Linked DNA regions of Homo sapiens. The protein of the gene in region 2 purifies or fractionates together with the protein of the main gene of each other region. This does not show direct contact. Each region holds a gene or a part of one and is shown on either strand. Other genes may lie near its edges.

What was found. The genes of interacting proteins can lie anywhere in the genome.
Region 1: the proteins of PLA2G12B (region 2) and GLG1 purify together in Homo sapiens (affinity purification with mass spectrometry, with the first as the bait; one large-scale study listed by BioGRID). This does not show direct contact.

The regions. Positions count from the first base shown.
Region 1 is NC_000016.10:74,495,563-74,499,130, forward strand, and holds part of GLG1 (Golgi apparatus protein 1 isoform 3 precursor), read right to left. Parts: intron 1,083-3,568; coding exon 879-1,082; intron 1-878. UniProt on the Homo sapiens protein: Binds fibroblast growth factor and E-selectin (cell-adhesion lectin on endothelial cells mediating the binding of neutrophils).
Region 2 is NC_000010.11:72,951,943-72,955,976, forward strand, and holds the start of PLA2G12B (group XIIB secretory phospholipase A2-like protein isoform a precursor), read right to left. Parts: upstream 2,865-4,034; 5' UTR 2,744-2,864; coding exon 2,533-2,743; intron 1-2,532.

The sequences.
Region 1 (3,568 bases), on a different chromosome or scaffold from region 2:
CCATTCTATTTAAAGACTTAGAAGGCTGTTCTGTAGAGTCAGCAGGTGGTAATCAAGGATTTGGTTTTAAAGATTAGCCACCTGCTGTTTTCTTCACCTTAGCCAAAAACACATAAATATATAATGCGTCAAAGTTTTAGCCATTGAATAGATGTAAATAAGATCCTGGGTAAAATAAAATTCCTATAGATAAAACAGACTTCCAAGAACTGAAATTGAGAAGTGAGATAAAGCAGAAAAAATACTAAGTGGAGATCATTAGAAGCCAGCTGTTAACCAAATGTTCAGTCATCAAGGTTGAGCATCCAGTTACCACTTTCTGCTATACTGGGACCAATTTCTTCTTCCATTTCTGTGGCTTTTCTACATGTGAGGTTTCTTGATGGCTTATTTTACGTTAGAATAGAGTATTAAAAAATATTTAAGTCACAGTGGCTCGTGCCTATAATCCTAGTACTTTCAGAGACAGAGGGAGGAGATCACCTCAGGCCAGGGGTTCAAGACCAGTCCGGGCAATACAGCAATGCCCCATCTCTACAAAAAATTTTTAAAAAAATTGGCCAGGCAAGATGGTGCTTGCCTATGGTTTTAGCTACTTGGGAGGCTGAGGCAGAAGAATCGCTTGAACCCAGAAGTTGGAGGCTGCAGTGAGCCATGATCACACCACTGCACTCCAGCCTGGGCACCACAGCAAGATCCTGTCTCAAAAATTGGGGAGGCTGAGCTGGAGCACTGCTTCAGGTCAGAAGTTCGTGACCAGCCTGGGCAACATAGCAAGACTCAATCTCTCAAAAAACAACACAATTAAATTAATTAAAACAAAATTATATATGTGTAAAAATAAAAGGAAGAAAAGAACAGTTTCTGAGCTGACTCACATTTTCACAAAAACGCTCCCGATCATCTCGGCAAGCAAAATATAAATGCCGGTCTAAGTGAAAGTCATCCGATGACAGCTCAGCCACCCGGAGAATGGCTTTCTTGCAGAGTTCAGAAACTTGAATCTTGGGTTCTCTTTCTTCTGCTTCTTTCACCAGGCCTTTCTCCAAGCATGATACCACCTCACCTTGTGAATGTGCATCCTAAAATAGCGAGGATATTAATATTTTAAAACTTTTATCACATGGGTTTCAAATAAACAACATTTGGCTACACACACACACACACACACACACACACACACACAAAGTAATAAAACCCCATCATAGAGTTGACTTATTAACGTTCTACCAAGAAATCAAGTAAGAACCAACCACATTGTGGAAGTTAAAGAAAATGCTCTCAATAATCTTCAGTTAGAATATAATACTTGCATGCTACAAATGGAAACAGAGATCCTGGAAAGTTTAAGTATTATAGTTTAGTTAGCACTAGAAATAAGAACCTGAATTTTTAAAAATTTAAAATGTCAAAAATTCATAAGAAACACAACAGGGCCAGGCATGGTGGCTCATGTCTGTAATTTCAGCACTTTGGAAGGCCGAGGCAGGTGGATCACCTGAGGTCAGGAGTTCGAGACCAGCCTGGCCAACATGGTGAAGGCCCATCTGTACTAAAAATACTAAAAATACAAAAAATTAGCCAGGCATGGTGGTGTGCGCCTGTAATCCCAGCTACTCAGGAGGCTGAGGCAGGAGAATCACTTGAACCCAGTAGGCGGAGGTTGCAGTGAGCCGAGATCGTGCCACTGCACTCCAGCCTGGGCGACAAGACAGAAACTCTGTAAAAAAAACACACACACACACACACACACAAAAAACCACATCGGCTCAAAGTTCTGGTCATAGTTCATGTCAAGACTGAAATTACACTGCTGAAATCTCTGTTCATTTGTCTCTAAAAACCAGGCATTTCCCAAATAACAGTGCTTGCTTTTTTTTTTTTTTTTTTTTTGAGACGGAGTCTCGCTCTTTCGCCCAGGCTGGACTGCAGTGGCGCTATCTCGGCTCACTGCACGCTCCCACTCCCGGGTTCACTCTATTCTCCTGCCTCAGTCTCCTGAGTAGCTGGGACCACAGGCGCCCGCCACCACGCCCGGCTAATTTTTTGTGTTTTTAATAGAGACGGGGTTTCACCGTGTTAGCCAGGATGGTCTCGATCTCCTGACCTCGTGATCCGCCCGCCTCGGCCTCCCAAAGTGCTGGGATTACTGGCGTGAGCCACTGCGCCCGGCCAACAGTGCTTTCAGTCAAGTTAAAAACCAACAAACCACATAATCCACTAAGAAGTTAGAGACTTTCTTGCTCCTTTCCCTACTCTGTGGTGTCCACAAACATCCCAATATGTAGAATCTGTTGTTTAATACTCACGTTGATGTTCTGGATTTATCTTAATGGGATTTAACAAGATTACCACTGTTTACACAAAACGCTTCTGAGAGTTTTCTTAAAAACCATCCAATTATCTTTAATTGTACACTTCATCATCCCCATAGCAACCACAAACATTCATTCATGCAAAATATGAGATAGTTCCCCTAAATATTTTCTATTCAAGAGTCCTAATCTATACTTACAAGATATGTTTCAACAATTTAAGGTATAACCACTAATATAGCAAACCAAAGCATCTTAAAATATAGTGCTATTAGCCCGGCACGATGGCTCATGCCTGTAATCCTAGCACTTTGGGAGGCCAAGGTGGGCGGATCACGAGGTCAAGAGTTCAAGACCAGTCTGGCCAACACAGTGAAACCCTGTCTCTACTAAAAATACAAAATATCAGCTGGATGTGGTGGTGTGCACCTGTAATCCCAGCTATTCGGGAAGCTGAGGAAGGAGAATCGCTTGAACCCAGGAGGTAGAGGTTGCAGGGAGCCGAGATTGCACCACTGCACTCCAGACTGGGAGGTGCAGTGCAAGGCTCTGTCTCAAAAAAAAAAAAAAGTATATATATATATATATATTATATTTTATATATATATTTTATATATAGTGCTATCATTTATACACACGCAATTAAAATCTTGTTATAATAAAATACCTATCTATGAAATAATCTGCATATAATAAAAAGATTCTGGCCAGGCGTGGTGGCTCATGCCTGTAATCCCAGCACTTTGGGAGGCCGAGGCGGGTGGATCATCTGAGGTCAGGAGTTCGAGACCAGCCTGGCCAACATGGTGAAACCCTGTCTCTACTAAAAATTCAAAAATTAGGTGGGTGTGGTGACACGTACCTATAACCCCAGCTACTCAGGAAGCTGAGGCGAGAGAATTGCTTGAATCTGGGAGGCGGAGGTTGCAGTGAGCTGAGTTAGTGCCACTGCACTCCAGCATAGACAACAAGAGTGAACTCCGTCTCAGGCAAAAAAAAAAAAAAAAAAAAAGATTCCTAAAACCAAGTAGCGTAACATCTACTTCAGACAAAATTTCAAATCAACCAAAGAATGTATTTTTTTCTATTTTAATTAAAGGATTTGTCTATAGCACCTTAATTTCCAAGTGTTTCCATGAAAGCTTTCGTGTTATCTCCTAACACACATATGAAGAAAGGACACAGCTCTGATATCTACTGCGGACATGAATGAACAGAGGCTCAGAGGAGTTAACTAACTCATTTGAGTTGTA
Region 2 (4,034 bases):
ACACAGTTTTATCTGCCTGCATAATTTAACCTGTGGGCTGAAGTTCTCTAAGAATGACGTCATAGAATGGCACCCCTTTACCTTGGCTGTGCTTTGCAATCACCTGGGAAAAATGTTAAAATACTGATGTCTGGGGCCAACCCACAGAAATTTTGATTTAATTGATTTGGTGCCAGGTGTTGTTAAAGCCCCTCAGGTGATCTGAAGTGTACCCAAGTTAGAAACCCACTGTTTTAAATAGTAGTTAGTACCTATCAAAGGTAAAATCTGGCTGGTGCCGTGGCTCACGCCTATAATCCCAGCAATCTGGGAGGCCAAGTTGGGAGGATTGCTTGAGCCCTGGAGTTGGAGACCAGCCTGGGCAAGATGGTGAGACTCCCTGCTCTACAAAAAGTTACAAAATTATCTGGGCATGGTGGCGCACACCTGTAGCCCAAGCTAACTGGGAGGCTGAGGCAGGAGGATCTCCTAAGCCCAGAATCTCCTACTAATCAGAAACACCTGGGGTGGGGCCCAGAGATCTGGTTGAATCTGCCCTCCAGGGGCTTCAATTCACAGGTGAGTTTGAGAACCACTACTTAAAAGACGAGCACGGTGCATGAGAGATGTGTCACAAAGCAAACTACAAAAGAGCAGACTCGTTGTTAGGTGTTGTCTGTTCAAAAGATTGCTCGATTCACAATCAGTTTGAGAAGGTATTTTGTACTCTTTTGGGCACAGCCGCCAGGTTTTTGGCTCTACTGGGTTCCAAGGTAAGGAGGCATAACCGCCTATTTTTCTAAGTGTTTTTCAGGCCCCTCTTTGAGCAGGTTGTTTTACACAAAGTGAGAAGAGTTATTTGCCTTTCTCTTCTATTTACTCTTCCCATCCCCCACCAGTTGCTGCTGGCTTCCACCCTGCCCAGCCAGAGGCTCCGCAACTAAAATTTGCTTAAGTCTTTTAATGCTGTTTTGCTAGAGAAGGAAGAATAGGATTTGGTTCTTGATTTCCTAATAAAAATTCCTGCTGTTGCCTATTTGCTGAACTACAGATACTAGTCCTGTGTTGCCTTTAGGAAGGAAAACACCTGTGTTGATTCCAATGTCTGAAGTGAGTCAACCCCTTCCCTGTCCCATCCGTGCAAACAGTGTGAGCATAATCCAGTGGCAAGGCCTCTGCGTTGGTCCAACTGCCTTGGACAAATACATGGTTTTAGGGCCAGGTGGGTCCTAACAGACCAGGCATTTTTCTCTGTGAAACTTTCACAAAGAAGCTGCAGCATAGATGGTTAAAACATAGATGGTTAAAACATAGATTTTAACCATAGATTGTTAAAACATCTATGCTGCAAAACTTTGGGTCCTGATGCAATGATTAACCATTACCTCCTAGTCACTCTTAGTGTATAAGGAAGCGATTTTCCCCACTCAAAAAGGAATAGAGAGACTTAAGGGTGAGTCCGGGAAGTATGTAGTTTTTTTGTGCATCTCTTCAAAGCTGACTTTTTCTCTGTTGAGTATTTGGAGAAAATATTTCTCAAATGTGTTTTCCTGTTAGGCTAAATTGACTCACCATTTTCATTTCTAATCCCTTGATGAGATAGTTGATAAATTAAACCATAAAACTAATGCTACCTGAGACCTGAGACTGTGCATGCTTTGGAAAACGTTTTCATGCGCATTGGCAATTACACGATGCCACCCAGCTTCAAGGCCTGGGGCTCCACATTTTGCTCCCCTTACATTAACTTCCAGGGCCCCTGGGACCAGGGGCTCTGTGCCGGCAGCCAGGTGTGCACCTTATATCTGTGTACCCCCAGCCATATTCAGGCAAGGTAGGGGAAGTGCTCCTGCCAGCTCACAAATCTGCATCTGGCGCCAAGTCCAGGGGACAGCCCCGGGATCCCTGGTGAGCCACGAACCCTTCCTCTCCACAGCATGCCTGTCGTTGCCGAGGCTGCAGGCAGGGACAGCTCCCTTGAGAAAGTCCAGCAAATTGATGCCAGTCAGGGACTGAGAGCTGGGAGGACGGTGTGAACTGCAGCAGGGGGAAGGGAGAATTTGTTTCCAAGCTGAGCACAGAGCAGCTGAGGAGGTGGTTTTGCCCCATGGCAGATTTTTCTCTGAATGTTCGGCTTCAGTTTTCATCCCTGGGAACTCCTCACAGAGGCCTCTCATACCCACCCTCCTTCTTCCCACCCCAGGTACCCTTTTTTCCTAAGAACTGCCTCACAACAAACTCATTAAAATGGCCCAGGGAAGGTTTCCCAGATACAATACAGGAAGCTCAGTGAAATGTGAGTTTGAGATAAACAACGAAGAATTTGTCAGGATAAGTATGTCCCAGATATTTCACTGGACATACTTATACTAATGACTTATTTGTTGTTTATTTGGATTTCACATTTCACTGGGTGTCCTACATTTTTATCTGCTAAATCTGGCAGCTCTAAGTGGATAACAGGAAAAAGTGCAAGACAGATCGTGACCTCTCTGGGGCTGTCCATGGGTCCACCAGCAACAGTTTTTACAGAAAGAGAAACCGCACACTCACCATATCGGCACCTGTACTGACAGACTCCATTCTTCCCTCCCAGCAGCTCCAGAAAAGAATCGAAGTAGCTATTGACGGATTCAAAGCTTCCCCGGAGGTGCCGAAGGCCCCAGTCTGAATAGGACTCCTCCGTGTCAGGGCTCGTGTCGCTCTGAGCCAGGCCACCCCCAAGGCTGAGCCACAAAACCAAGAAGCCACTGGCCAGCTTCATCCTGCAGCCAGGTAGGTACTGGCTTCTCTCCTCAAACCCCAGCCAGTGTCCCAGAATTCCAGGGACAAACCCCCTACCCAGATGTCAGGCAGGACTGGGAAAGGGATTATCTGGAACATTCAATCTGTCTGTTCCCCAGAGGTGGACTTTAAACATAGCTATGGAGGTTGGGATGAGATCAGGGCAATTAGAAAGAGGGCAAAGGTTAGGGAGTGGGAGGGCCAGGGAGAGAGAACATTTCAAAGTGGATTCTACCACCCTGGAGGGAGGGAGATGTTAGCCAGCTTCTGAGACGCAGGAACGGTGAAGGATTCGGAGTTCTACCCCGACCAGCTTGTTAAGCTGTTGATCAGTTACAAGTGTGGCTCTTCAGGGCCAGCCTCTTGATAGAAGAGCTTGACCGAAGGTCCTAGCCACACCCCTCAGCCAGCTACCTACATAGTCTCCAAGGAGAGTCAGGAGGATGTGTACAGGGCCCAGGAAAGCCCCAGCGGTAGGAATTAATAGTCACTTTACCAAGGGTCACGATAGTGTCAGAGTAGGTACCAAGTGTGTGTTAAGCAGAAGTTCAGATTTGAGACCCCAGCTTCTGCTGTGGAACCCACCTGGCTCTGACGCATAAATCCTCTAATTTGGCAGAGCTCCCAGATGTAGCCATCTGAGTGCAGGGACATTTTGGCTTCTATTTACAGCAGTATCTCTGTTTACACTCAGCATAAGTGGATCATAAGACAAGATCTACAGATGGTCCAAGGACAATTCTGGGGGCACTCGGCTCTCCTGGTGGTGTTTTTCCTTTGAGTTTCTTAGAAGTCAGAGGGTTTATCAAATAGTCTATTTGGGAGTGTAGGCTTTTAAGACTGTTGACTGAAGTCTAGTGTTTTGGCATCGTTTTCAGTTTAGACTGCTTTTAGTCGTGTGAAGAAATGCCATCTATAAAATCACTAGTCTAGGACCGGGCATGGTGGTGCATGCCTGTAATCCCAGCATTTTGGGAGGCCGAGGCGTTTGGATCACCTGAGGTCAGGAGTTTGAGGCCAGCCTGACCAACATAGCGAAACCCCGTCTCCACTAAAAATACAAAAATTAGCCAGGCAAGGTAGCAGCCGCCTGTAATCCCAGCTACTAGGAAGGCTAAGGCAGGAGAATCACTTGAACCCAGGAGGCGGAGGTTGCAGTGAGCCGAGAGCACGCCATTGCACTCCAGCATGGGCGACAAGAGCGAAACTCTGTCTCAAAAAAATAGTAATAATAAAATAATCACCAGTCTATAAAAATGATACCTTTATGG